Linked DNA regions of Homo sapiens: region 1 is linked to region 2. Evidence: fine-mapped expression QTL. A gene starts in region 2. The other region holds a variant in brackets. All regions are shown on one strand. Distances are from middle to middle. Region 1 overlaps TANGO2 (transport and golgi organization 2 homolog). Region 2 holds the start of DGCR8 (DGCR8 microprocessor complex subunit).

Region 1 (16,486 bases), 34 kb after region 2:
GCTACTCGGGAGGCTGAGACAGGAGAATTGCTGGAACCCGGGAGGTGGAGGTTGCAATGAGCAGAGATGGCGCCATTGCACTCTAGCCTGGGCAACAGACCAAGACTCCGTCTCAAAAAAAAAAAAAAAAAAAAAAACCACCAGGAAAATATTTAATGAAAAATGAGTGACAAAGACTGAAAACTCCAGGGCACTGTTGAGGGTCTCAAGTTGAGCTGACCTGATTTAAGGAGAGACATGCATATTCACTGAAAGATTCAATAGTGTTTTTTTGTTTGTTTTTGTTTTTTAGAGTCTTGCTCTGTCGCCTAGGCTGGAGTGCAGTGGTGTGATCTCAGTTCACTGCAAGCTCCGCCTCCCGGGTTCAGGCCATTCTCCTGCCTCAGCCTCCCAAGTAGCTGGGACTACAGGTGCCCACCACCACACCTAGCTAATTTTTTCATATTTTTTTAGTAGAGACAGGGTTTCACCGTGTTAGCCAAGATGGTCTCGGTCTCCTGATCTCATGATCGGCCCGCCTCGGCCTTCCAAAGTGCTGGAATTACAGGCGTGAGCCACCGTGCCCAGCCTCAACAGTGTTTCTTCTTGTTATTATTTGTTTCACTGGGTACTTCTTAGACAACTCAGTATTGTTAAGGTGACACTTCTCCCCACATGACCCATAGATTCAAAACCTGCCCAGTCAAAATCCCAGGGGGCTTTTCGTTTTATAGCAATTAACAGACTGGCTGAAATATCTATGCATATGCAAAGGAACTGGGATGGCCAAAATAGTCCCGAAAAAGAAGGCAGACCCACATTGCCTGATTTCTTTTTTCTTTTTTTTTTTTTTTTTGAGACAGAGTTTCGCTCTTGTTACCCAGGCTGGAGTGCAATGGCGTGATCTCAGCTCACCGCAACCTCCGCCTCCCGGGTTCAAGTGATTCTCCTGCCTCAGCCTCCCGAGTAGCTGGGATTACAGGCATGGACCACCACACCCAGCTAATTTTGTATTTTTAGTAGAGACGGGGTTTCTCCATGTTGGTCAGGCTGGTCTTGAACTCCCAACCTCAGGTGATCTGCCCACCTCGGTCTCCCAAAGTGCTGGGATTACAGGTGTGAGCCACAGTGCTCAGCCTGATTTCAAGACTTACTAAAAAGCAGCAGCACTCATAGACTGCATGGTGTTGGCATCAAGACAGATACATAGATCAATGGGATACAACAGAGTCAGGAATAGACCCACACATATATGTTCAACTGATGTACAACCAAGTTGCCATAGTAATGAACTAGGCAAAAGATAATCCATTTAATAAATGATGCTGGAACAACTAGAGAGATTTGGGGGTTGGAGGCAGTAAATCTCAACCCCTACCTCACACCATGTACAAAACCTTGAGATAAATCATAGACCAAACATAAAAACAAAAATTAGGCTTCTAGAAGCAAATGGAGGAAAATATTGTTATATATTTTCCTCTGGGTAGGCAAAGACTTTTTGGATAAGGCACAAAAAGAACAACTCATAAAAGATAAGATAAACTGTACTTTGTTAAAATGAAATATTCTGGCCGGGCGCAGTGGCTCACGCCTGTAATCCTACCACTTTGGGAGGCCAAGGCAGGCAGATCAAGAGGTCAAGAGATTGAGCCCATCCTGGCCAACATGGTGAAACCCCATCTCTACTAAAAATACAAAAATTAGCTGGGCATGGTGGTGCATGCTTGTAGTCCCAGCTACTCAGGAGGCTGAGGCAGAAGAATCACTTGAACCTGGGAGGCGGAGGTTGCAGTGAGCTGAGATCGCACCACTGTACTCCAGCCTGGCAACAGAGTAAGACTCCACCCACTCAAAAGAAAAAAAAAAAATTCTGCTCACCATAAGCTATCATTAAGGAAATGAGTAGGCACAAAGGACTCATATCCAGAATGGGTAAATAACTCTTACAAATCAATAATTAAAACAAGAACAAAACTTCCAAATTGCCCAAGCAACAAGGACCAGATTTACCCTCCTGCATAAAACAACCAAAAAATAAATAAATAAATAAAACTCAAGAAACAATGGTGTATTTATTAGTCCATTCTCATGCTGCTACAAGGACATACCCGAGACTGGGTAATTTATAAAGGAAAGATATGTGACTCATAGTTCAGCATGGCTGGGGAGGCCTCAGGAAACTTACAATCATGGCAGAAGGGGAAGCAAACATGTCCTTCTTCACATGGTGGCAGGAAGGAGAAGTTCCAAGCAAAGCAGGAAAAGCCCCTTATAAAACCATCAGATCTTGGCTGGGAGCGGCAGCTCATGCCTGTAATGTCAGCACTTCGGAAGGCCGAGGCAGGCGGATCACCTGAGGTCAGGAGTTCGAGACCAGCCTGGCCAACATGGTGAAACCCCATCTCTACTAAAAATACAAAAATTAGCTGGGCGTGGTGGCAAGCGGCTGTAATTCCAGCTACTCAGGAGGCTGAGGCAGGAGAATTGCTTGAACCTGGGAGGTGGAGGTTGCAGTGAGCCGAGATCGCACCATTGCACTCCAGCCTGGGTAACAAGAGCGAAACTCAGTCTCAAAAAAAAAAAAACAAAACACTATCAGATCTCATGAGAACTCACTATCATGAGAATAGCAGCATGGGGGTAATGCCCCATGATTCAATTACCTCCCACTGGGTCTCTCCCAGGACATGTGGGGATTTGGGGAACTATAATTCAAGATGAGATTTGGGTGGAGACACAGCCAAACCATATCAAATGGGTTTTACAAAAAAGGATATGACAGACAGGAAACAAAGTGAGCCCATGATTAGAGAGGCTCCAGGACCCAGCCCAGGGAGTGGGGGGACCAGGCCGAATTCAGCAGACTCCCTGAGCTGAGAAGAGGGGCTTAGTGTTTGGGGAAACTAAGACAACCAGAGTTCATGGCTGCCATAGTTTGGATGTTTGTCCCCCAGACCTCATGTTAAAATCTGATCCCCGGGCTGGGTGAGGTGGCTCACGCCTCTAATCTCAGCATTTTGGGAGGCTGAGGCGGGTGGATTGCCTGAGGTCAAGAGTTCGAGACCAGCCTGACCAACATGGTGAAACCCCGTCTCTACTAAAAACACAAAAAATTAGCTGGGCATGGTGGCAGGCGCCTGTAATCCCAGCTACTCAGGAGGCTGAGGCAGGAGAATTGCTTGAACCTTGGAGGCGGAGCTTGTGGTGAGCCGAGATCGTGCCATTGCACTCCAGCCTGGGCAACAAGAGTGAAACTCTGTCTCAAAAAAAAAAAAAAAAAACAAACAAACCAAAAAACTGATCCCCAGTGTTGGAGGTGGGGTCTAATGGGAGACAGATCTACCTAATGGCAGATCCTTCATGAACGGCTTGGTGTTGTCCTCACAGTGATGAGTTCTAGCTCTATTAGTTCCTTTGAGAACTGGTTGTTTAAAAGAGCGTGGCGCCTCCTCCCTCTCTCTGGCTTCCTCCCTCCGTGTGTGATCTGCACATACCACCTCCCCTTCCCCTTCCACCATCAGTAGAAGCTTCCTGAGGCCTGCATCAGAAGCAGATGCTGACACTGTGCTTCAGGTCCCCTGTAGAACTCTAAGCCAAATAAACCTCTTTTCTTTATAAATTACCCAGCCTTGTGGATCACTTGAGGTCAGGAGTTTGAGACCAGCCCAGCCAACCTGGTGAAACCCCATCTCTACTAAAAATACAAAAATTGGGCTGGGGGAAGGATAGCGTTAGGAGAAATACCCAATGTAAATGATGAGTTGATGGGTGCAGCAAACCAACATGGCACATGTATGTATACCTATGTAACAAACCTGCACGTTCTGCACATGTACCCTAGAACTTAAAGAATAATAATAAAAAAATACAAAAATACAAAAATTAGCAGGGTGTGGTGGCAGGTGCCTGTAATCCCAGCTACTCAGGAGGCTGAGGCAGGAGAATCACTTGAACCTGGGAGGTGGAGGTTGCAGTGAGCCAAGGTCGCACCATTGCACTCCAGCCTAAGCGACAGAGCAAGACTCTGTCTCAAAAAAAAAAAAAAAAAAAAAATTACCCAGCCTTGGCTGGGCACCATGGCTTATTATCTGTAATCCCAGCACTTTCGGAGGCCAAGAAAGGAGGGTCACTTCAGGCCAGGACTTTGAAACCAGCTTGTGCAACACAGCAAGGCTTTGTCGCTACAAATTATTTTTAAAAATTAGCTGGGCATGGTGATGTGCACTTGTAGTCCCAGCTACTAGGGAGGCTGAGGTGGGAGGATCACTTGAGGCCAGGAGTTAGAGGCTGCAGTGAGACAGGATTGTGCCACTGCACTCCAGCCTGGGCAACAGAGTGAGACCCTATCTCAAAAAAAAAGAAAAAAATTACCCAGACTCAGCTTTTTCCTTTAGAGCAACACAAACGAACTAAGACAGTGGCACAAAAGTCCAGAGAGGAAGGAGCTACACAGAGAATGTCTGATCAGCATCTCAGGGAGGAGACTATATGACACTGGGGCAAGAACCACCAGTGCTCACACAGGGCAGGGAGTAGGGCTGGCTCCCAGACACCAGGCTGGAAAACCTCAAGATCTAGGGGCACCGAGAAAAGTACGCAGAGAGCATCGCAGAGGTGTGGGACAAGGGCAAGTGAACTAATATATGTGTGTAACTGGAGAGAAGGAGAGAGTGAGAGAGAAGACAGAAAAACTACTTGAAAAAGTAATGGCCGCTGGGTGCAATGGCTCATGCTTCTAATCCCAGCACTTTGGGAGGACAAGGCGGGCGGATCACCTGAGGTCGGGAGTTCAAGGCCAGCCTGACCAACATGGAGAAACCCCATCTCTACTAAAAATACAAAATTAGCCTGGTGTGGTGGTGCATGCCTGTAATCCCAGCTATTAGGAAGGCTGAAGCAGGAGAACAGCTTGAACCCGGGAGATGGAGGTTGCGGTGAGCTGAGATGGCACCATTGCACTCCAGCCTGGGCAACAAGAGCAAAATTCCATCTCAAAAAAAAAAAAAAAAAAAAAGAAGTGATGGCCAAATTTTTATGAATTTAATGATTTTGATTTGCATTTCTTTTCTTTTTTTTCAGACAGGGTCTCACTCTGTTGCCTAGGCTAACTGCAGTGGCTCAGTCTCGGTTCACTGCAGCTTCTACCTTCCAGGCTCAGGCGATCCTCCCACCTCAGCCTCCTGAGTAACTGGGACAACAGGCATATGCCACCACAGCTGGCTAATTTTTTTTTTTTTTTTTGTAAAGACAGGGACTCACTACGTTGCCCAGGCCGGTCTCAAGCTCCTGGCCTCAAGGGATCCTCCTGCCTTGGACTCCCAAAGTGCTGAGATTACAGGTGTGAGCCACCGGCCCAGGGTGATTTCATTTCTAACAAGTTCTCAAGTAAAGCTGGTGCTACAGGCCCAAGGACCACACCTGGAGAACCACTGTCCTAAACTTTTGCATACAATCCGGTGACGCCAGAGAGTGAGAGGATGTGGGCCTTAGTGATATGGTCACCCCGACACTTGGCAGAAGCCCGTGTACATCCATGCACCAGCTGCCACCATCAAAACACCACAGGGGTGAACAATTCCACAAGACTGGAGCTGCTGGGGTTGGCACTAGTTCAGAGGCAGCTGACAGACCTGGGTGCCAGGGTGGGATGGAGCCCAGGAGGGCACAATAGTCAAGGAACCAGAAGAGGGTAACCCTCTGAGCCGCCACATCTTCATCTATGAAAACCTTCCACCTTCCAAGGACATCAGTCTTGTGCCTTCACCCACCCGTCCTGACCAGCCCTGCACCCACTGCATCCTCCTATACCAGCAGGCCTAGGACCACCCTGCCTCAGTCTCCATGCACCCGTCCTCCTCCCACACGGTGCCGGGACCACCCAGCCTCAGCAGCATTCTCACACTACTGCCAGGCCACAGGCCTACACAGGAGTCCTCACAAAACCCCACAGCTGAGCTTTTATTTGATTGATTGATTGACTGATTGAATGAGACAGGGTCTCGCTCTGTCACCCATGCTGGAGTGCAGTGGCACAATCTCAGCTCACTGAAACCTCTGCTTTCCGGGCTCAGGCAATTCTCTAGCCTCAGCCTCCTGAGTAGCTGGGGCCACAGGCACATGCCACCACGCCTGGCTAATTTTTGTATTTTTTTTTGTAGAGACAGGGTTTTACCATGTTGCCCAGACTGGTCTTGAACTCCTGGGCTCAAGTAATCCTCCTGCCTCAGCCTCCTTAAGTGTTGGGTTCACACCTATAATCCCAACACCTGCCCTCCCGGCCTGGGAGGCAGCACAGGGCACACACAGCCTCCATGGGCCCACGAGGTCACACATCTGGCCTGAGTGGGCACCCTGGAGCATGCCAGGATGCCTCGGGCCCACTTGGCGCCTGGTACGCAGGCAGAGTAACCCGTGGCCTCACCAGCCATCTATGCGCACCTTCCAGGTAGACTCCCACCACCCCATGGGCAGGAACTGGTTCCTGTCCAACAGGACTTCAATGAGGCTGGTATCTTTGGTGGGGAGGACCTGGTTCTCACCCCTACTTCTGCCCTATAAGTACACCTAATGCAACACAGGCATGGTGCAGGTGACGGGGCTTCAGCACCACCAGCTTCCCAAACTCAGCCCCACCATCCCTGAAGCAAGGGTGCTCATATACAAACAGAAACACAAACACAGGCACACACACGCACGCATACACACGCATGCACACACTCATATGACTGGGTTGCTTCACAAAGTGACTGAGTGTGGATCTGTACATCACACAAATCCACCCACATGCCCTCAGCAAAAAGGAGGGATCCATATAAAACCAACTGATGCTTTCACATGATGGGGCCCCCATGCAGACGCATGGCACAGGAAGCCACGCAGACAGTGCTGGGTGGGCAGCTCTGGCAATGCCCGGTGCTGGGGCTGGCCCCGACCACGAGCCCCATCAGTTCCACCTCTACACCCCGCCATCACACTTGGAAGCAGCACCACTCAGTTAGGGTCACTCGGGCCACGCAGGGGCTAGGGAAGCAACAAGGCGCAGCCACCGCTGAGCACGCAGGAAGACTCACCACTGAGGATCTCGTTGTTGTTCCCCCAGAAGTCAGCTAACTTGGAGGGTCGGCTGTAGAATTCATCCCTGTTGGCTGCCAAGATGAGCCTGCAAGAGGAAAGCATCACTGATGGCTTCAGATGGAAACGAGCGAGCCAAGTCTTTTTCTCTTTTCACACACAAAACTGGCCTCAGTGGCAACAAGGGCCAGTCTCAGAGAGGGCAGGAAGCCGGCAGTCCTGCTGCACCCACACTGGAGGAAGGAGCACCGTGGCTCCAGGTGAGCTCTCGGGAGCCTGCAGCTGGGACCGCACGGGAAACAGGAGGATGCTAGGCAGGGACACACATCCACACCATTCAATGGCGGGAGACGGGTCTGCCAGGCCCTTAGGGGCACCATGGAGCCTGGGCTCCATGCCGGGAGCCCAGGCTGGAGGGTGGGGGGCTGTTCCTCCTTCTGTCCATCTGTCCCCAGCCCTGGGAACACCCACAACAAACCCGTGGGCTCTTGGAAGCGTGAGCTCAAGGATACAGATTGAATGGCACAGCATGTGGGCCTCTGAGGGCTGCTCCATTCTGTGTGTTTTGGAGTTAATTTCTCGGGTTGGTTGGGAGTGGATGGGAACTTCACTGTTTTACTAGTTTTTTTGCATTATGAATCAAACAAATATTTCCATTTTTATTTATTTTTATTTTTTGAGATGGAGTCTCTCTGTGTCACCCAGGCTAGAGTGCAGTGGCGTGACATCGGCTCACTGCAACTCCCGCCTCCCGGGTTCAAGCTATTCTCCCGCCTCAGCCTCCTGAGTAGCTGGGATTACAGGCACCCGCCACCACACCCAGCTAATTTTTTGTATTTTTAGTAGAGATGGGGTTTCACCATGTTGGCCAAGCTGGTCTTGAACTCCTGACCTCAAATGATCTACCCGCCTCGGCCTCCGAGGCGGAGGATTACAGGTGTGAGCCACCACATCCAGCCTAATCAAACAAATATTTCTTTTGGAATTAGGAGAGACATCTAAACTTTAAGAGCCCTGGTCTTGAGGAAAGAAAACTGACTTTCAAGTCCCAGCTTGGACATTAGAAGAAAACAAATAAGGACACAGCAGTGACTGAGTGGAAGGGGTCAGTTCCTGCAATGT[C/T]CATTAGACCTGAGGGTCTAAGAAGCGATGGCTGGGCCAGGCACAGTGGATGACACCTGTAATCCCAGCAGTTTGGGAGGCCAAAGTGGGAGGATCACTTGAGGCTAGGAGTTTTGAGACCAGCTTGGGCAAGAAAGTAAGACCCCATATCTACAAAAAAAAAATACAAAAATTAGTCAGGTGTGGTGGTGCATGCCTGTATTCCCAACTACTGGGGAGGCTGAGGCAGCAGGATCATTTGAGCCCAGGAGTTTGAGGCTGCAGTGAACTGTGACTGCACCATTGCACTCCAACCTGGGGAACAGAGAAGCCCTGTCTCTAAAAAAAAAAAAAAAGTGATGGCTGAAGACCCCCTGAGCACTTGTGCCGGAGAGGCAGCTCCAAGGAGCAGAGCTCAGCTGTCCTGCCATCACAATCTGAGTCTGAAACCAAGTTGCAGTGGTGAGAGCCCGACAAGTGTTTAAAAATAATTTCCATATTGATCATTGCACATCAATTTCATAAAACAACATTTGCTCCTGATTAAATGTGAAATAACAGACATTCATAAAATTGGGAGTGAAAGTGGTGCTCACAGCTGGGTACGGTGGCTCATGCCTGTAATCCCAGCATTTTGCGAGGCCGAGGTGGGTGGATCATGAGGTCAGGAGTTCAAGACCAGCCTGGCCAAGATGGTGAAACCCCATCTCTATTAAAAATACAAAAATTAGGCCGGGCCCGGTGGCTCACGCCTGTAATCCCAGCACTTTGAGAGGCCAAGGTGGGAGGATCACGAGGTCAAGAGATCGAGACCATCCTGGCTAACACGGTAAAACCCCGTCTCTACTAAAAATACAAAAAATTAGCCAGGTGTGGTGGCGGGCGCCTGTAGTCCCAGCTACTCGGGAGGCTGAGGCAGGACAATGGTGTGAACCCGGGAGGCAGAGTTTGCAGTGAGCCGAGATCATGCTACTGTACTCCAGCCTGAGTGACAGAGCAAGACTCCGTCTCAAAAAAAAAAAAAAAAAATTAGCCGGGTGTGGTGGCGGGCGCCTGTAATCCCAGCTGCTCGAGAGGTTGAGGCAGAGAATTGCTTGAACCCGGGAGGCGGAGGTTGCAGGGAGCTGAGATCGTGCCACTGCACTCTAGCCTGGGCGACAGAACGAAACTCCATTTCAAACAAAAAAGTACATGGTGCTAGCACCCACCATTCATGCCCTTGGAGGCATTCACACCTGTGTGCACATGTGTGCCCCCCACTCAGTGCCTGCCCCTGAAGCTTCTTGCCAGCAGAACTGGGGAAATGCTTTTGGTCATTGCCAGGGACTGTGCCATGCCCTAGAGCCCTTGGGGTCTGCTATGGAAGCCTTACCACCTCCAGGGTGCCCCATTCAGCCTGGTCTGACACCCAGCTGGCCCCAGGGCTGCACCAGGTCTCAGGGATGTGCTGCCTGGGGTAGGGGGAGGTGGTCTCTGTCCCTGATGAGCCTCAGCCTTTGTACCTCTAACTGCCATGTTTCAACCCAGACCCAGCCCAAGTCTCCATGTCCCTTCTGGGCAGAAGTGCCCCCCAACCTCTGCAGCAGGGATGGCAGGAGAGCCCACCTTCCCTGGGCTGGACAGTGCTAGTAGAAGGCAGTGCACTTGCCCCAGACCTGGATGGGCCAGTCCTGTAGGTGCCCATTGGTTGTGTCCTGGCCAGCGGGCAGGAGAAGGGGGAACACCGCAGTCCCTGAGTGCTATGGTGGGGATGTGCCAGGGTCTGGGATGACAGCTCCTCCACCCTATGGGTGGGGTCAAGCTCCATGTGGTTCTGCTCAGCATTCTCTCTTAAATACCTTCCTCCTCTGCTTCCACGTCCCACAGCCCTGCAGGTGAACAGGGGTCGGGGGAGCCAGGGACACCTCATCCCAGTCCAGCCCCAAACCAGGCTGGGGCTGTTGGCTTCGGGTGCTGATTCTGACATAATGCTCTTACAAAGGGAAAATAAAGGGGAGAAAAGTAGGAAGAAAAGCTGACTGAGCATGGACTTTTGTCCTAAGATGTTCAGCTGTCTGTTTTTAAACAAGGAGCAATTATATATGTTTGCCTAATAACTCAGGAACATTAATTGCCAGGTTATTTTTGTTCCAGCAGTCATGTTTAGCTGAATTGCTGGTGGTTTGCCAGGGATTTCATTGAATACATAATTCAGGGACAAGCCAGCATGCTGAGCACCCAGATCAAGCCCCAAAGGGAGGAGGAAGTAGCTCTCTCAGTCATCACTGGTGGGGCTGCACATGGGTAGAAGCCTATCTGCGCCCCACGTCCAGAGAGACAGGGATGCACCCACCACGGTGAGGTCCCTGAGGATGGCAAGTCACCTCGGCTTTATTTTGTTCCAATAACTGAAACCACTAATTATCCATCACCACCTGACACCCACGCTGCTAGGCAGGGTGAGTGCGTGTACTGTCCGGGGGGTATGTGCATCATCTCGGGGGGTGAGTGTGTTCTGCCGGGGGGTGAGTGTGTGCACTGTCTGGGGGACAGTTTGGTGACAGATAGGAGGTACTCTGGCCTGAGATCCAGTGATCAAACCCTCAGTGGTGACCCCATGGAAGCTGTCCCATGGAGTAACAGCTTGTCCTGCAGCCACTCTAGGCTGAAGCCAGCAAGTGGCATCACGTGGGGCTGTAAACAGGCAGGTTTTTTTTCGTTTTTTCTTTTTTTTAAGATGGAGTCTCACTCTGTCATCCAGGCTGGAGTGCAGTGGCGCTATCTCAGTTCCCTGTAACCTCTGCCTCCCAGGCTCAAGCAATTCTCCTGCCTTAGCCTCCCTAATAGCTGGGATTACAGGTGTGCGCCACCATGCCAGGCTAATTTTTGTATTTTTAGTAGAGATGGGGTTTCACCATGTTGGCCAGGCTGGTCTCGAACTCCTGACCTCAAGTGATCCACCCACCTCAGCCTCCCAAAGTGCTGGGATTACAGGCGTGAGCCACCGCACCCGGCTGTAAACAGGCAGTTTTGAAAGAGATAGGGTGACATCATGAAGTGATTGTGTTATCTTGCTGCAGGGTCTTGGTTTTCCGTGATGGGTATCAAATTACCAAATACAGTGGCCGAGGCCGGGCATGGTGGCTCACGCATGTAATCCCAGCATTTTGGGAGGCTGAGGCAGGAGGATCACTTGGGCCCAGGAGTTCGAGACCACCCTGGACAACATAGTGAGAACTTGTCTCTACCAAAAAAAAAAAAATTAGCCGGGCATGGTGTTGTAGTCCCAGTTACTTAGGCATGCTGAAGTGGGAGGATCGCTTGAGCCGGCGAGTTTGAGGCTGCAGTAAGCTATGATCATACCACTGTACTCCAGCCTGGGCAACAGAGCAAGATCCTGTCTCTAAAATAATAATAATAATAATAAAAAAAAAAAACATAGTGGCCTAAAGCACCCTACTTTTTACTCCAGTCCACAGGTGAGGAGTCCAGCCCAGCCTAGCTGGGTACCTGTACGAGGCCTCCCAAAGTGCTGCAGAGGTGCTGTCAGGGGCTCCATAGAAGTGTCTGTGCTCCCAGCCTGCAGCGTGCCCTTCCCCTGGCTGGACACCCCACAGGCAGAGCAGAAGCAGCCACCAGAAGTGTCTCACACCCTCCCATGAAGTCAGGAAAACACAGCGCACATTTGCTCAGTCACCCAGAGGTGGCACATTTCGTCTTTGGCTTAGGGCTTCGGAAAATAGTCCAGAGAAATCCCGAGGCCAACTGGAATGGCAGGACCCGCAGGACAGGTCCTGGCAGCAACACACGGGTTCTGAGTGAAAGCAAGAGGGGCCCATGTCAACCCTCCTCCTCTCCACCCAAGGGGCTGGGTGGCACTGACCAGCACCCGCAGGCCAGCCATCAAGCTTCCTTTCCAGAGATGGGAGCACTCGGGGTGGGTTGAGTCTCTTCAGCAGCCTGCAGGAGGCAGCCCTGAAACGCATACAGAGCTGGCTGGCTCTCCTCAGCGTGCTAGTTTCCTGGGGCTGCCGTAACTAAGCACCACAGACCAGGCGGCTGCAACAACAGACACTATTGTCTCGCAGCATTGGATGCTGGAGATCCAAGATCAAGGCGTCAGCAGGGCTGGCTCCTTTTGAGGGTCTTCTCGGTATGCAGACGACTGCTTCTATCTCTGTATACACACCAGCTTCCCCTGTGCGTATCTGAGTCACCCATCACATTGATTAGGGCCTACCCACATGACCTTATTTTACCTTCATCTTTTTTTTGAGATGCAGTCTCGCTCTGTTGCCCATGCTGGAGTGCAGTGGCGCAATCTCGGCTCACTGCAAGCTCTGCCTCCCAGGTTCACGCCATTCTCTTGTCTCAGCCTCCCAAGTGGCTGGGACTACAGGCGCCCACCCCCATGCCCAGCTAATTTTTTTGTGTGTTTTTAGTAGAGATGTGTTATCCAGGATGGTCTGGATCTCCTGACCTTGTGATCCGCCCACCTTGGCCTCCCAAAGTGCTGGGATTACAGGCGTGAGCCACCGTGCTCGGCCAGCCCCTACATTCTTTAGAGTTCTGTTCACTCACTAGCCAGCCCAACACTACTCCAGTCCCTGTAGCAGTCAATAGTTCTTTCCTAACATTTCTTCCACCTTCCCTGCAGCATGCTGTCTGCTGCTGGGACCTGCCACTCACCCAACTGCAAAAAGGGAAAACACCAGACACCCTTCCTTCCTGATTCCTTGGCCTGAAATGACTTCACTCAGCCTTGAAGTCAAGCAGCATGGTGTCTATGCAACTTTGCAGTGACTCAAATCTGAGACCCTCTTGAAATGGTTCAAATCATTTCTGGTACAGATTTTAAAATGATGAAAACTTCCCGAGCAGTTGCATTAGAGAGTGGTTACACGTTTCATTTTAGATGTGGGTTATATCTCTGCCTCGTTCTCTGTGTGGATAAATGCTGGGGTGTCCTGGGGAATGGAGGTGTGGCCGTCCTGAGTCCAGGGTCAGGGGTGGCTTCTGGCCTCGATTTCCTGACTCCTCTGGCTGGTCCTCAGCGTCCCCTCTTCCCCAGGTTCTTTTTCCTCAGCTCAGGACCCACCCACAGACCCCTAGCCTGGCCGCCACTTTGACTTCTCACCAGCAGCTGTGACCCGCCAGCCCAAGCTGGCTCTCACTCACTGACGCCGTTGTCCCAGTTCTGCCGCCCGACCCTCCTCAAAGCCCATAGAACTGCAGCCCACCTGGACCCATGTCACTCCTCTGTCCTACCTGTGGCTGCCTTCTGTGGCTGAGTCTTCACGTCTTTGTACATTGACTGGAGTCCCCGCCCCGAGAGGCATTCTGACAGCATCCCACACTGAGTGACCCTGTCCTGGAGGGCAGTGCCAGGCCTGTGCAGCCCCGTCCTGGCCCACACACCTTCCTGCACACAGCAGCTTGGGTGGCATGAGAACTGGCTGGGCACCCAGGACCCTGCAGGGCGCAGCAGATGCAGAGCGAGGGGGTTACCTGTACGCGTTTTTGGAAACAGGGCGAGGATCAAACTTAAAGAAGATGATGCACATGGTGGTGCAGGGCGGCTCTGCTGACACAGGTCGCGAGGTCTGCGGGAAAAGGAAAACACTGAGTTGAGCGGATGGCAGACACTCAGGGCTGCCCTCCGAACCTGCAACAGGCCAGAACAGAGAGAACCACCTCTGTGGTGTCTGTACTACTTGCTGGGTGTGGGGGAACTGGACACCACACTCTTGGCCGGTGCCACACAAACAACTCCCAAACCCATGCACTCATTGGCACTGGCCAGACTGTCTCTCCACCACCTGCAACACCAGCCCTGAACAGAAGCATCCCATCAGCACCATGGTAGTCTTAAGGCCTGGACACACCGAGCTGGGGTGCCGAGGGGGTCCCCGGGGGGCAGCAGAAGTGAGGGCAGGAGCCACACTGTGAGAAACAAACTTACCCATCCAAATCTAAAGAATGAACTCAGACCCAGAGAACAGCGAAAGTGAGACTTTTAATGACAGTCTTGCAAGATCAGGTGTCAGACAGGCACACCCAGCACAGTTTCGACAAGCAATTTATCCCCTAGTACGCAGGTCCCTCCCCCAGTTCCTCATAGGCCGAGTACTGTGGGGTCACAATTTTCCCGGACGTCGCCTATTAATTGTTGGGTAGGGGCTTCAGGTGTTTTTTTGGGGGCTTGTCTTGCTGTATTTTGTTGCAGCCCACAATGCATTGCAGTCCTAGTTAGCTCAGGGACTTTTTAAGTATTTAACTTACGACCTAAGTAGCAGGCAGGCTGATAAGAACAGACAAAATGAGCTATTTTGCAGGCTAGTAAACTTTCAGCTTAGACTGAACTTCTTTGGTTCGGGTGAAGGCAACTAAGTGCGGGGAAAGTGGAGGCCGACAAGCACACATCAGCTATCCAAGCAGGGTGGCCTAGTATATCCTGTTTCTTCTGTAGTTTGCTGAGCTAAGCCAATTTAAGACACTTTGTCTTGGAAATAGACCACTGTATACATTCTTCCTTCAAGACTGTCCCCCACATGCACATCTCCTCCCCTGCAACAGCACCAAACCCACCCCACACGCCACCAGTGGGGGCAGCCCTGCCTCCGCCTCCAACAGCATGGCCCACTCACCTGGGATGCAGGCCCTACAGGTCCTGCTCAGCACACACACTCGCCATCCCACAGGACCCGAAGGCCCCACACACCCACAGCAGCTGGCATGGACACGTGCCGGGGACACGCTGGGTGACTGCACACTTAGCATACACCTCGTCCCCACCCAGGGACCTCTGGGGCCCAGAGCAGGCAGTTTTCCACAATGCAAACGAGTGCAGAACGGAGATTAGATTCCGAGGCCACCCAAGGGTGACACCCAAGTTCCCTGAAATGTGCACATGTGCAATGATTTAGTGACACGGCTCCAGGGCAGAGCCAGTGCTCACAGCTGGGACATGGGACAGCCAAGAAGCTGTTCAAATACTGAAGAGACCCAAAAAGATTCCTCTGAGAAAAGTCTAATGAGTGGGGACGGAGGTGAAGAGGGCTCAGTGTATGTGCCTCCATAGGCACGGGCATTAGGGATGGCCATTGGGGACCATCTGCTCCAGTGAGGAGCTGGTGGCTGTGCAGTTGAAGTATTGGGATAGCAATAAGCGCCACGTGCAGACGCACTGGGTCAGGGGGATGGGCAGCCATTTGAGATGGTCTGCTGGCCACCACTCTGCATAGGATGGGAAGCTAAAGGGTGTGTTGTTGCAAGGGGGCCCTGTGGGAAGCAGACTGTGGGGCTGGAAGTGGGTTGGGTCCCCTTGCCGGGTGCCCTGGAAGCGCCCACAGGGGGCCATCATCCGAGGGTGGGCAGGCTACTAGGGGCAATCCTTTTGGTAAAAACAACTCAAGATGCTGGATGAAATATGAAAACATCTTAAAAATTGCCAGGAGCTGATGAGCTCATGCAGCATTTGGCCAACAGTTCGGAGAGCGTGGCCCACAGAGGACAGCAGAACACAGTGGCCAATCCTGCCTGAGAGCGTTTGCCCACTGAACACACTGGGGCTCATACTCTGGTGGCCTCGGGGGCGAAGGAGACAGAAGACAAGGTCCAGTCACCCCCACAGGATGAAGAACCTAACAGAAGACTCTCCTCTAAGTTAGGCTGGGACTCCAAAGAGCGATGCTTAGGGAGAGATGAACTACAGCCGCAGCCACCCCCAGGGGTTATGGGGACATTGCACATAAGTGAAGGGAAGTTTCTGAGAAGCTGTGGCACAGCCAGCCGTCCAGGTCCACACTGGGGGTACAAGGACCCACAAGCCAAGCACAGTTTTAAGGGGTTCCAGCACTCGTAGTGCCCCTGTGCCTGAAGTTCTCTCTGGAGAAAGATACCTTCATCCTATACTTCAAAGAAGTCTCAAAATCATTTTTCAAAGACCAGAAGCAGTACATAGTCAGAAAGAACCACATAATGAAAGAAGCACCATGAGCAAGAACCAGCAGAAAGATAACCGTACATGCATCATCAACCAACCATGCTCTGATGGCAGAAAGAAAACAGACAGCTCAGAAACATCTGCAGGGCAAAGGAAGTGATGAAGAGCAAACTGGGTTTACAAAGCAGCAAAAGGAACTCGGTTTTTTTTTGTTGTTGTTGTTTTGTTTTTGCTCCTGTTGCCCAGGCTGGCTGGCATAATCTCGGCTCACCGCAACCTCCGCCCCCCGAGTTCAAGCAATTCTCCTGCCTCAGCCTCCCGAGTAGCTGGGATTACAGGCATGCGCCACCACGCCCAGCTAATTTTGTATTTTTAGTGGAGACGGGGTTTCTCCATGTTGGTCAGGCT
Region 2 (14,132 bases):
CCCATAGAGACCCTGGTGAGTCAATCCATGATTCTGGGACACAAAAAGCTACATGAAGAAGCCACAAGGAGCAGGGGATTAGAGACCAACAGTGGGACGGAATGGGGAAGCCTGCTACCACAGAAGGCGAAGAAGCAGCTAGAGTAGACGTTCCAAGCAAAGGTGCTAATGGGGCCAAGCGGCGGCACTGAAGAAATGCACAGCAGGAAAGCCTGGTGCCTTACAAGTGAGTGAGCTCCTTAGGAAAGCAGGAAACCTGCCCAGCCCCAGACCTCAGTGGTGGGCAGTCCTGGGCAAGTTCCTTCCTCCCCTCTATAAGCTTTCTCCATTCATCACACACACACACACCATCCTAGATGCTACAGACACAAGGTGGACAAAACCCTGCCCTACAGAGCTCACATTTTAGTGGGGGAGATGGACCGCTAACAACTAAGAAAAGCATGCACCCTGTCACATGCCAAGAAGTATTCAAGCAAAAACAAAACAAGGAAAGCGCCTGAAGAAGGGGAGGCAGTTTTAGGAAGGGGGATCCAAGAAGGCCTCATGGCCTGCATCCACGTGAAGGCAGGAGTGAGCCAGGTGGGTTACAGGGCTGGGAGGAGGGGATGTTCCAGGTGACACTGAGAGGAAAAGCAGAGGGCTGGGGTCAGGAATGTGGTGTGGCCAGCTGGGGCAGTGTGCTGAGGGGACGTGACAGTGGGCCAAGTCCATGAGGGCAGATGGATCAGGGCTGGTCCTCCCAGGCTGCTGCCAGGACTTTGGCTCTTAGTGAGAGAGATGGGCCACCGGATAGGAAGGCCCACACAGTGGCATCAGCTGATTCCAGGATAGCAGTGGCAACCAAACCTCAGCCAGGCCCTGTTCTAAGCACTTTAAGCATTTTAACTCACCCAGGTCTCACATAGCATTATGGAAGAAAGGTTCACCCACATGCTCAAGGTCATACAGCCAGGAAGTGATGGAGCTGCTTTACAAGCAGGCAAGCTGGCTTGCATCTACACCGCCTCTGTTTTATACCATCTTATGGTTTAAAAGAACCACTCTGGGCCGGGCGCGGTGGTGCACGACTGTAATCCCAGCACTTTGGGAGGCTGAGGCAGGCGGACCACAAGGTCAGGAGATCGACACCACCCTGGCTAACACATTGAAACCCCGTCTCTATTAAAAATACAAAAAATTAGCCGAGTGTGGTGGTGGGCGCCTATAGTCCCAGCTACTCGGGAGGCTGAGGCAGGAGAATGGCTTGAACCCAGGAGGCGAAGCTTACAGTGAGCGGGAGATCGCACCACTGCACTCCAGCCTGAGCAACAAAGCGAGACTCTGTCTCAAAAAAATAAAAAGAATCACTCTGTGGCCAGGCACAGTGGCTCACGCCTGTAATCCCAGCGCTCTGGAAGGCTGAGGCAGGCAGATCATTTGAGGCCAGGAGTTCGAGACCAGCCTGGCCAACATGGTGAAACCCCGTCTCTACTAAAAATACAAAAATCAGCCGGGCGTGGTGGTGGTGGACGCCTGCAGTCCCAGCTACTTGGGAGGCTGAGGCAGGAGAATCGCTTGAACCCGGGAGGCAGAAGTTGCAGTGAGCTGAGATCACGCCACTGCACTCCAGTCTGGGCGACAGAGCGAGATTCTGTCTCAAAAAAACAAAAAAAAAAAAAAAGAAAGAAAGAAGAATCACTCTGTGTCCAGAAAAACTATAGATGGTGGATGGGGAGTGAGGACCTAAGGTGACAGTAAAGAGAATTAGAGGCTCACCAGGTAGGCTGGGCCAGGATGTTAACTTGAAGGTGGTGAGAAATGGTCTGTGCTTAGAAATAGGTGAGCTGACGGGGCCTCCTTAGGACTGCATGAAGGTGTAAGAAAGAGAGGAATCAAAGGGACTTTAGATAGGCCAAGGAATGTTTTGGCATGGGTGAAGATTTGAGTTTGGTTTGGATATGGCTACTTGGCGCCAAAGTAACACATGGAGATATGGAAGAGGTGGCCAGAAACACCAGGCTGGAAATCAGAAGAGAGGCCAGGGCTGGAGCTGTGAAGATGTCAAGGAAAGCTGGCATTAAAGTCAGGAGGCTGGGTGACATCACAAAGGAGAGGGCTACAACAAGAGAGTCTAAGACTGGGCAAGCCAGCCAGAAGCACATTTCCTACCCCAAGGTCACGGTGAGACTACAAAACAACCCCTGGGAAGTGCTCCACACAGCGCCTGGCCGCAAAGGGCTCAAAGGGGAGCTCTCTGCCCGTAGGCCTCCCCACTGCTCCAGCTGACCAAACACCGCATGCAAACCCTGCCTTGCCAACAGGACTATCGGACAGGAACGGGCTCACGGCAAGCTCCCCTGGACCCTTGGCACGGGGAGAAAACCCGTACACTTGGACAGCACCCTTCCTCCTAGCCCACTTGCTGTGTTGGCTAACAGAGGCACTGGCTGTGACGGGCCAGCACCAGTGCCAGCGCCATGGAGGCTGCCTTTTGGTCAAGTCTCTCCCGCTGCAGCCTCCCGCCCAACCCAGCGGCAGTATGACCTCATCCGTTCCTTTTGTCATCCTCCAACAGGCCTCATATCCCGCACTTAGAGGCAACACTGGGTACCCCGGGCTGGCCATTCACTCCCTTTTGTGAGTGAAGGCCTGCAGCAGGGTTTGGGCCACTCCCACAGCTGGGAGTCTAGTCTGGCCAGGAAACAGTGGATCCTCGCCTGGTGGTTGGCCTCGAACAGTCGACAGCCAAAGACAGGACTGCCGTGCAGGAACAAGGTACATGCAAGCATGCAAAAAGGCAAATCAGACTCCTGCCACAAGAAACCCAAGTCCATCGGTTGACACCAGACAGGCATCACTGTCAACAGGTTGCCACCTTCCATTTATTTCCGCCATGCTCATTGTTACAATAAAACCGTATCCCAATTATCTACGTGACACTCAACCCGTGAGCATTCTGTGGACAAAAAGACTTAGGCGACTTCTTGGATTTCCCAAACTGTGTTAAAGCCGGCAGGGTCCCAGGCGAGCACTGGCCCTGTCCACACCTTTCCCGCCTGAAGGCGATGCTAGGCTTCGGGCCCTCCGGGAGAGGAGCCTCTTTACCCGGGCGGACAGCGACGAGAGTCGGCAACGCCTGGGCCCGGGGCCCGCCCCCCAGCCCCGGAGGCGTCCCCACCCCGCGCTCTCCACCGCCCGCGGCCATGTTGCCTCACAAAGGCCGGGCTCCGCGCCCCCGCCCCGCCCGCGGCCTCGGTCCCGGAGGGAGGCGGGAGGGAAGGGCGCGCCCTCGCGCAGGCCGCGGCGCCCGCCCAACCGCCCGCGGGCGCCCCTCGCGCCCCGCACCTACCTGAGGCGCCCGCGGGCTGCCCAAGCCGCCCGCAGCCAAACCACAGCCGGGAAAGCCTCACCGACCGACCGCCGCAGCCATCTGGAAAGCCTGTCCAGGCTCTCCGGTCGCCGGCACCCGCCTGCCGCGCCGGGCGAGCGGAGGGCGGGCCTTCGCGGCGTGCGGCCAATCCCCGCGCGCGGCCGCCCCGCATTGGGGGAGCCGCAGAGCGCGCTGCGGAGGCCGCCAATCGGCGGCGCGTAGCGCGTGTGTCCGCCGCGCGCGGCCCAATAGCGCGGCCGCGCGGGAGGGACCAGGCGCCCAGGCCGCGGTCGCGCTAACAGTCGCTGCCCAGGCGGGGCTCGCTGGACTGAGGGCGGCGGCCGCGAGGAGCGCCGGGAACGGGAAGCACCGGGAATGCCGGGAGCAGGGGAGCGCGGGAAGCTCGGGGAGCGCGGGGAATGCCGGGAACAGGGAGCGCGGAGTACGCCGGGAGCGGACACGCAGACGGGCCACCTTCGGTGGACACTGCAGAAGAGACCGTGCACACACAGGCGTTACACAACCCTGTTAAAAGCATCACTGTATCAGACATCATCATTTATAAAGAACGCGTGTGCTCAACTGTCTGGCGCTGTCCCCTTTGCTAATACAGGATTTCCAAAACAGGGAGGGTTCGGCCGGGCACGGTGGTTCGGCCGGGCACGGTGGCTTGCGCCTGTAATCCCAGAGTTTTGGGAGGTCGAGTCAGGAGGATTACTTGAGCCCAGGAGTTCGAGACCAGCCTGGCTAACATAGTGAGAGCCCAGTATCTACAAATTTTCTTTCTTTTTTTTTTTTTTTTTGAGGCGGTGTCTCGCTTTGTCTCCCAGGCTGGGGTGCAGTGGCGCGATCTCAGCTCACTGCAACCTTTGCCTCCCGGATTCAAGCGATTCTCCTGGCTCACCCACCCGAGTAACTGGGATTACAGGCGCCCACCACCACGCCCGGCTAATTTTTATATTTTTGGTAGAGACGGGGTTTCACCATGTTGGCCAGGCTGGTATCAAACTCCTGGCCTCAATTGATCTGCCCGCCTCGGCCTCCCAAAGTGCTGGGATTACAGGCATGAGCCACCGCGCCGGGCCCAAAATTATTTTTAATTAGCCGCGTGGTGGCGGGCGCCTGTGGTCCGAGCTACTCGGGAGGCTGAGGTGGAAGGATCACCTGAGTCCAGGAGTTCCAGGCTGCAGTGATCCGAGATAGCACCACTTTCACTCTAGCCTGGGCGGCAGAGTGAGACTCCGTCTCAAAAAAAAAAAAAAAAAAAAGGAAAACGAGGGTCTGAGTAAGTGAGGGTACAGCTCTTCCTTAGACTAGCTTTCCTGTCAATAAATGTGGAAGGAATAGTGGAAATAGAAAAATTTTCCACTGGGTAGCCACCCCAATAATAGCTGCTGTAGACGAAAATCTTGAGTGATAAAAATAGTGGGCCGGGCCCTGTGGCTCACGCCTGTAACCCCAGTACTTTGGGAGGCCGAAGCAGGCGGATCACCTGAGCTCAAGAGTTCCACACCAGCTTGGGCAACGTGGCGAAACCTTATCTCTACTGAAAATACAAAAAGTAGCCAGGCGTGGTAGCAGGCACCTGTAATCCCAGCTACTCGGGAGGCTGAGGCAGGAGAATCGCTTGAACCCGGGAGGTGGAGGTTGCAATGATCTGAGATCGGGCCACTGCACTCCAACCTGGGTGACAGAACGAGACCGTCTCCAGAAAAAATAGTGAGCAAGGCCAGGCACAGTGGCTCATGCGTGTAATCCCAGCACTTTGGGAGGCCGAGGCGGGCGGATCACTTGAGGTTAGGAGTTCGAGACCAGCCTGACCAACATGGTGAAACCCTGTCTCTACTATAAATACAAAAAAAAATAGCAGGGCTTGGTGGCAGGTGCCTGTTGTCCCAGCTACGGAGGCTGAAGCTGGAGAATTGCTTGAACCTGGGAGGCAGGAGTTGCAGTGAGCCAAGATCCAGCCACTGCACTCCAGCATGGGCAACAGAACGAGACTCGGTCCCCGGCCCCCAACCCCCTACAAAAAAATTAGGCCAGGCACAGTGGCTTACGCCTGTAATCCCAGCACTTTGGGAGGCCGAGGCGGGTGGGTCACGAGGTCAAGAGATCAAGACCATCCTGGCCAAGATGGTGAAACCTCGTCTCTACTAAAACTACAAAAAAAATTAGCTGGGCATGGTGGCACGTGCCTGTAGTCCCAGCTACTCGGGAGGCCAAGGCAGGAGAATCACTTGAACCTGGGAGGCAGAGGTTGTGGTGAGCCGGGATCACGCCACTGCACTCCAGCCTGGGTGACAGAGTGAGACTCCATCTCAAAAAAAAAAAAAAATAGTGGGCAAAAACATGACAAACAGGTTTTGTTTTGTTTTCAGTGTTGCAAAGTTTCTCCCCCAGGATACTAATTGCCTAGGGAAAATAGTAGTTTTAGAGTGGAAGAAAACTTGGGCGACACCACCTTTAACCAAGCCATCAAGGTCACCAGCAAACTTAGCAAATTGTACCATTTAAACATGTGTATTGCATTGTATATAAATTCTGCCTCAATAGAAATGAAAAAAGTTAGTTCCAGTAAGAGGACATACTGTGGACCTCCTGAGAAGAACACAAGTTCACTTGTGGGTATTTTTGCCCAAAAGGCAGAATCTGAATGAAGAGCAGACAAACCCCAAATTAGGGGCATTCTGCAAAATTACCAGCCAGTGCTTTTCAAGTATCGAGATCATTCAAGTCAAAGATGGACTGAGGAGCCATCTTCAATTAAAAGAGATAACAAAATGCAGTGTGGAATCCAGACGATAGATGGGATCCTGGCTCAGAAAAGGGACATTAATGGGACAATTGATATAATTCAAACAAGGTCTGTAGATTAGTTAATACTATTGTATTGGCCTGGCGCGGTGGCTCACGCCTGTAATCCCAGCACTTTGGGAGGCTGAGGCAGGCAGATCACGAGGTCAGGAGATCGAGACCATCCTGGCTAACAGGGTGAAACCCCGTCTCTACTAAAAATACAAAAACATTAGCCGGGCATGGTGGCACGCACCTGTAGTTGCAGCTACTTGGGAGGCTGAGGCAGGAGAATTGCTTGAACCCGGGATGCAAAGGTTGCAGTGAGCTGAGATCGCGCCACTGCACTCCAGCCTGGGAGACAGCAGGAGACTCTGTCTCAAAAAAAAAAAAAAAAAAAAAAAAAAAAAAAACAAACAGTAAAAAGTATCGTGTTGTTGTATTGACAAAAGATTATTTGCTTGGCCAAACTTTAGTCAGGCTCCTAAATCTTCTAGGCCCGTCTGAGAATTCCAGTTTAGCAAGAACCACCCTGCTTTTGATATCTGATCGCCCTCAATACTGATGAAATTCCTCATCCCTCCACCATCCTCTAGGTGATGTCTGATCACCCCAGCCTGTCTTCAGCAAGAATCCTCTTAGGTCAGCTTAGCCAGTATCCCCCTTATCACTTATGTTTCTTCTTAGTAATTTTTCATCCACTGACCCCCGCCCTGCTCCTTGGCTATCAGTTCACACTTGTCCATGCTGTATTCAGAGTTCAGCCCAATCTCTCCCCTGCAGCAAAACCCCATTGCCTGTGGTCCATATGCCAGTGGCAATGCTCCTGAATAAGGCCTTCCCGACCGTGCTTTGACAAGGGCTGAATAATTTTTTTCTTTAATGGTTGTGGTGCCACAGGCCTCTGACCCAGGACTCTCAATGTGCAACTTTGCAGCCTTTGTCTTCTGACTGGCTGATTGGGGATCTACTGGTGAGTCAAACTCCTGAGCCATGACTGTAGAAAAACTTTTATTTTAGCTGGTAAGGACAGATTTTGATTTTTAAGGTCCCAGCCTTCTTTTGAAAGGTATAATACTTCCTGGGTTGGAAGGTCTTCCTTGTGGCTCTTCATTCTGAATGGGGATTCACTCCCTGACTCCTGGGCTGGCAGTCTTTTCTTCCCACTGTGAGGCCTCTCTGTTCTCTCTATTGGATCCTACTTCTCCCATCGGAACTTCTCAGTCACCTGAATCCCCTTTCCTCAAACCCCTTCAGACTATATACTCTGCCAACTTTATTTATTTGTTTGTTTATTTATTTATGTATTTATTTAAGACAGAGACTCACTGGGTCACCCAGGCTGGAGTGCAGTGGCGCAGTCTCGGCTCACTGCAGCCTCCACCTCCTGGGTTCAAGCTATTCTCCTGCCTCAGTCTCCAAGGTAGCTGGGACTATAAGCGCACGCCACTACGCCCAGCTGATTTTTTTGTATTTTTGTAGAGACCAGGTTTCACCATGTTGGCAAGACTGGTCTCAAACTCCTGGCCTTAAGTGATCTGCCTGCCTTGGCCTCCCAAAGTGCTGGGATTACAGGCGTGAGCCACTGGGTCTGGCCTCTGCCAACTTCAGTTGCAGAGCAACTACATATGTATGTTTGTATGTTATATATACATGATATTTTTCTACCTCCAGATAGTAGCACCAAATTAATTTATAAAATCCCTTAAAGGAATAACTGACTCTGTGCTAATATATATAGCAACTGGTTGTTCCAGAATGAGAAAGAAAAAAAATGTAGGGGAAAAAAAGTACTGATAGATTTTTTTTTTTTGAGATGGCATCTCTCTGTGTCACCCAGGCTGGAGTGCAGTGGCAAGATCTCGACTCACTGAAACCTCTGCCTCCCGGGTTCACGCCATGCTCCTGCCTCAGCCTCCCGAGTAGCTGGAACTACAGCTGCCCGCCACCATACCTGGCTAATTTTTTATATTTTTAGTAGAGACAGGGTTTCACCGTGTTAGCCAGGCTGGTCTCGATCTCCTCACCTCATGATCCACCCGCCTCGGCCTCCCAAAGTGCTGGGATTACAGGCATGAGCCACCGTGCCCGGCCAGATATTTTTTTTAAGTTGTAAAAGATCTATAGAAAAGAAATCTTGGAAAAGAAATATTATCTTGCATGAGATTGGATGGATTCATTTATAAGGTTTTGTTAAAATTAGCTTTATTAGTAGTGCTATGATGCAGAACTTTAACTTGATCTTCTCTGTTGAAATGACAAAGTTTTCTTACAGTATTTGAGATTATGAAGATTTCTGTTTACCTTTTATTATTATTATTATTATTTTACTTTTTATTTTTGAGACGGAGTCTCACTCTGTCGCCCAGGATGGAGTGCAATGGCACGATCTCGGCTCACTGCAAGCTCCGCCTCCTGGGTTCACGCCATTCTCCTGCCTCAGCCTCCCGAGTAGCTGGGACTACAGGCGCCCACCACCATGCCCGGCTAATTTTTTGTATTTTTTTAGTAGAGACGGGATTTCACTGTGTTAGCCAGGATGGTCTCGATCTCCTGACCTCGTAATCCGCCCGCCTCGGCCTCCCAAAGTGCTGGCATTACAGGCGTGAGCCACCTCGCCTGGCCTCTGTTTACCTTTTAAATAATTGACCTTGGAAACAAAGATTTTTGTGTTATATCAAGATAGTTCCTTGTTCTTCATATTGTCTTTTATTAGGTTTTTGATTACTTAAGAAATGTGGCTGGGGCCAGGCGCAGTGGCTCACACCTATAATCCCAGCACTTTGGGAGGCCGAGGCGGGCGGATCACGAGGTCAAGAGATTGAGACCATCCTGGCCAATATGGTGAAACCCCATCTCTACTAAAAACACAAAAATTAGCTGGGTGTGGTGGTGTGTGCCTTTAGTCCCAGCTACTCTGGAGGCTGAGACAGGAGAATTACTTGAACTCAGGAGGCGAAGCTTGCAGTAAGCCAAGATCGTGCCATTGCACTCCAGCCTGGGTGACTGACACTCCGTCTCAAAAAAAAAAAAAAAAAATTTCCAGAACTCTTTTTTTTTTTTTTTTTTTGAGACATAGTCTTACTCTGTCACCCAGGCCAGCATGCAGTGGTGCAATCTTGGCTCCCTGCAACCTCTGCCTGCCGGGTTCCAGCGATTCTCCTGCCTCAGCCACCCAAGTAACTGGGATTACAGGCGCCCACCACCACGCCCTGTTAATTTTTATATTTTTAGTAGAGACAGGGTTTCACCATATTGGCCAGGCTGGTCTCAAATTCCTGGCCTCAACTGATCTGCCTGCCTTGGCCTCCCAAAGTGCTGGGATTACAGGCGTGAGCCACCACACCTGGCCAGAATTTCCAGAACTTGAATGAAGACACTGAGGGGTTCGTGAAACTGCTGATCAAGATCAAACAGAACAAGAATAAATTACATGGCAATGAATAAACCAATTACAATTATTTATTTATTTAATTTTATTGTAGAGATAGGGTCTCACTATGTTGACCAGGCTGGTTTCAAACTCTTGGCCTCAAATGATCCTCCCATCTCAGCCTCCCTAAGCATTACAGGTGTGAGCCACTGTACCCAGCCAGGATAATTTTTTTATGTTTTGTTTGAAACATTGCTGGTTCTTTAATGTTTTGTTTTCCAGATTTAAGGAAACTTTTTTTTCTCTTTTAAGTTATCCATAGCTTACAGCAGTTTGGTAAAGTATGCCTTTGTAAACAAAAGTGAAACAATTACTTTTTCTCTGTACCTTATCCTTCCATAATTCGGAAACTATTCATGAGTATTTTTATTTTAATGGCAATATGGTTATTTACATAAGTTCAGTAAGAACCTGTTCTCTTTGTAACAGGACACAATTGGAAATGCTGTTTATATTACCAAAGCTTTGACTAGAATGCCATATTTTTAGCTATGGCCAGACAACTTTAAGTAACTAAGATGACTTTATGGAACCAATAAAGCCCTTGGGGAAAAATGGGTTTTAAACCTTGAATACATGGGTCATGTGGTTGCCTTGTAGGTGAGTAAGGAAAGTCACTTCCTGACAGGCCCAAGGATGTCAGGATATTTTGGGGGACCTCAAAAAGAGAGGAATTCACCCAAACCTATAATGATTGCAAATGAAGTATGATGGTGAAGCTTCGGCTTGGCTTCCTAGCCTGGCAAGGCTTTTAAAAGCCCAATCTGAGATGCCTTATTAAAAGTCCTAGCAGGCTGGGCACGGTGGCTCACGCCTGTAATGCCAGCACTTTGGGAGGCCGAGGCGGGCGGATCACGAAGTCAGGAGATCAAGACCATCCTGGCTAACACGGTGAAACCCCATCTCTATTAAAAAAAATACAAAAAAAAATTAGCCGGGCATAGTGACGGGTGCCTGTAGTCCCAGCTACTTGGGAGGCTGAGGCAGGGGAATGGAGTGAACCTGGGAGGCGGAGCTTGCAGTGAGCGGAGATCACGCCACTGCACTCCAGCCTGGGCGACAGAGCGAGACTCCGTGACAAAAAAAAAAAAAAAAAAAAAAAAGTCCTAGCAAAGGAAACTTAAAGAAAGCCTATGTGTTCAATCACTATTGTTGCGGCACTTATGTAAGTAATTAGGCCAAGTTTAATCAACCTAAACTTAGCTACAAACAAATTAGTCTTACTTCAACATCTTTGATAGAAGTGGGGTGACTATATAGAGAAAAATTAGTTTCAGAAGAAAACTATAGTGCACCCATTATCAGATTCTAGCCCTGTTCATTGTTTTTGAGGTTTTGATATTTACCTACAAACTGGATTGGATCCTGAATTCTTCTAGTTTCCTCCAATATTTGATTTTCTCTAAACTGATGTTTCCAGTTTTTTTCCCACCCTTCTGGCCTGGAACCGCTAAAAATTAAAACTTCCCATTTCCTGAAGCCCTTTAAGCTGAACCCGGACAACTTGATAGAAACTTTAGGCCAGGCACGGTGGCTCACGCCTGTAATCCCAACACTTTGGGAGGCCAACGTGGGCAGGTCACGAGGTCAAGAGATTGAGATCATCCTGGCCAACATGGTGAAACTCCGTCTCTACAAAAATTACAAAAATTAGCTGGGCATGGTGGTGTGTGCCTGTAGTCCCAGCTACTCTGGAGGCTGAGGCAAGAGAATCGCTTGAACCTGGGAGGCAGAGGTTGCAGTGAGCTGAGATTGCGCCACTGCACTCCAGCCTGGGCAACAACAGCAAGACTCTGTCTAAAAAAAAAAAGAAAGAAACTTTAAGATGGCACCACAACAGATAATTTGTGGGCAGACTTCATGACACGCAAACTGCCGTCCATGATAGTCTGTTAGCCCCTACTCCATCTGAAGATGCTTCAAGCACAGCACCTGGAAATCTTGAGTAGCTGCCCTCTGAACTCAGAAACTGAGTTTATAGTTGGTTCCAACTAATATCTTTTTCTTTTATCTTCAACATGCAACGCCTGATGGCTCACACCATGGAGGATATCTCCTCTACTGCCGGTCCCAGCAGATGATTCAGCTGGCCTTTAATGAACAAAAGGCAGCCCAGCAAGGAAATGGACTCGTACTATTCAAGGAAAGATAACCTCTTCTTTCCTTGAACAAGAGGAGGGACCGACAAAGATTCTTTGCTTGGCCAAACCAGGCTTCTGAACCTTCTTCTAGGCCCATCTGTGCACTTCCTTGTAAATTTCACTTAGAGCAAGAACCCTGCAAAGTCACTTTAGCAAGAAGCATCCCCTGACCCTCGACATCTGATCACCCTCCTTATCTAATCCGTTCCTACACTGTCCCCCAGGTGAAGATGTCCGGTCACTGTGGCCTGTCTTCAGCAAAAATCCTGTTAATTGGTGTAGCCAGAATCTCCCTCACCCGGGGTGTTTCTTCTTAGTCATTTTCCATGTGCTGACCCAGCTCCCACCGCCCTGCTCCTCAGCTATCATCAGTTCCCACTTGCCCATTCGGACTTGAGCTTAATCTCTCTCCCCCACTGCAGAATCTCATTCCTGTGGTCCCTAGACCTAGCAAGACGGTCCTGAATAAAGTCTTCCCTACAGTGCTTTAGCAAATGTCATTCAGTAATTCTTTCTTTAACATTATCAGTGTTAATTTCCTGGTTGTAATCATTTTTCTGTGATTGGGTGCGGCATTCACATTTGGGGTAACTGGGTGAAAGACACTAGAATTTTTTGTTCTACTTTTTAAATCCTTTAGTAAATTGAAAAAAAAATTTTTTTTTTTGAGATGGAGTCTTGCCGTGTCACCAGGCTAGAGTGCAGTGGTGCCATCTTGGCTCACCGCAACCTCTGCCTCCTGGGTTCAAGCGAGTCTCCTGCCTTAGCCTCCCAAGTAGCTGGGATTACAGGCACCTGCCACCATGCCCAGCTAATTTTTGTATATTTTGTAGAGACGAGGTTTCATTTTTTTTTTTTTTTTTTTGAGACGGAGTCTCACTCTCGTCACCCAGGCTGGAGGACAATGGCATGATCTCGGCTCACTGCAACCTCTGCCTCCCGGGTTCAAGTGATTCTCCTGCCTCGGCCTCCCAAGTCGCTGGGATTACAGGCAGGTGCCACCATGCTCAGCTAATTTTGTATTTTTTGTAGAGACAAGGTTTCTCCATTTTGGTCAGGCTGGTCGCGAACTCCTGACCTCAGGTTATCTACCTGCCTCAGCCTCCCAAAGTGCTGGGATTACATGCATGTGCCACCATGCCCAGCTAATTTTGTATTTTTCGTAGAGACAAGGTTTCTCCATTTTGGTCAGGCTGGTCGCGAACTCCTGACCTCAGGTTATCCACCCGCCTCAGCCTCCCAAAGTGCTGGGATTACAGGCATGAGCCACCACGCCTGGCCATTGAAATCATTTCTAAATGAAAAAGTTTAAAGAAAGTGGGGAGAGGAATGTTGCAGATGACAAAGCTGTAGGCCTGCACGGGCCTCCCCCACCACTTCAGCACCAGACACCTCACAATGGGCTCCATGCCCTGGAGGGTCTGGGTCCAGGACTCAGCTAGGGGATGCCAGCCTCCCTGTGGCTGGGCCAGTCAGACCCCAGCACATGGCCATTCAACCAAAGCAACCTCTCACACTTGGTTGATTGGTGAGTTGGAGGCTCCAGTGGCCCCTGTCAGACTTGAGACCTCAGACCTGCCCACCACAGCCAGTTTCCCACACAGCCTGGGACTGACTGGGTGACGGAGAAGGATCCTTACCATGGAACTAGCCAGGTCCAGCCCCAGGGTTGCAAAGATTGATGATTGGAAGTTGGGACTCCAGCCCAAGCTGGGGGAGGATCCTTTCCCCTCTGGGCTCCTGTGTTTCCACCTAAGCCCGGCTCACCCATGAGCCAGGCATCTGCTGGCAGATGAGAACAAGACGTGGTCTCAGGAAGTCTGCAGGCAGACCAGGAGCCCAGGCCTTCAAGGATGAGACCTGAGGCCATGCCGCATTCCTGGCCTGGCCATGTCTGTTCATAGAATTGCCTCCACGTTAGCCAGCCCCATGCCTCCAGACTCTATGTCTACACAGCTCACCTTGGCCATCTCGGGGCCAGAGGGCAGAAGCAGCTTATGTTGGGAAGGGGCATCTGAGAAGAAGGTGAGTTCCCCATCTGCCTGGGAGAAAGAGACCCATGCTGGGGACTCAGGGATCAGGTGCATCTGGCAACAAGCACAGAGGACTGGCTGGGCAGTGCCAGGAAGGCCATTGTCCAGGCCCAGCCATTCCTGGTGTCACGTCCAAAGCTCTTCTAGAAGGCACTGGCTTTGGACCCCTATACCCTCTATTAGCACAAGGGCCTTGCATCAAGGGGTTGGCCCAAATAGATGGGGGCTTGGGAAGCACCAGCACTGTCATTCTTGGCTCAAATGCCTGCCTGGCCTGGGCATCAGAGTACAGTAGTGGGCAAGAGAAGGAAGGTCCCTGCCTTCCTGAAGCTCCCATTCTGATGGAGACAGGCAAGAACCAATCCTAGCACACAGCATGC

What was found. PIP is the estimated chance that this variant, and not a neighbour inherited with it, causes the effect.
Region 1: its variant is fine-mapped to the expression of DGCR8 in whole blood (INTERVAL, PIP 0.96).

The regions. Positions count from the first base shown.
Region 1 is chr22:20,034,010-20,050,495 of GRCh38, reverse strand. TANGO2 (transport and golgi organization 2 homolog) reads right to left here. Exons shown (of 9, transcript NM_152906.7): 2 at 13,642-13,736; 3 at 7,053-7,141. The coding sequence starts at 13,697. Among named protein-coding and RNA genes, the nearest start is that of MIR185, 9.1 kb to the right of the region's middle. RefSeq lists a silencer at 11,789-11,950 and an enhancer at 16,240-16,309. The variant C/T (reference allele first, on the strand shown) is at 8,176.
Region 2 is chr22:20,069,583-20,083,714 of GRCh38, reverse strand. It overlaps DGCR8 (DGCR8 microprocessor complex subunit), which reads right to left and starts at 3,474. Exons shown (of 14, transcript NM_022720.7): 1 at 3,332-3,474. RefSeq lists enhancers at 1-551, 2,656-2,715 and a silencer at 2,976-3,595.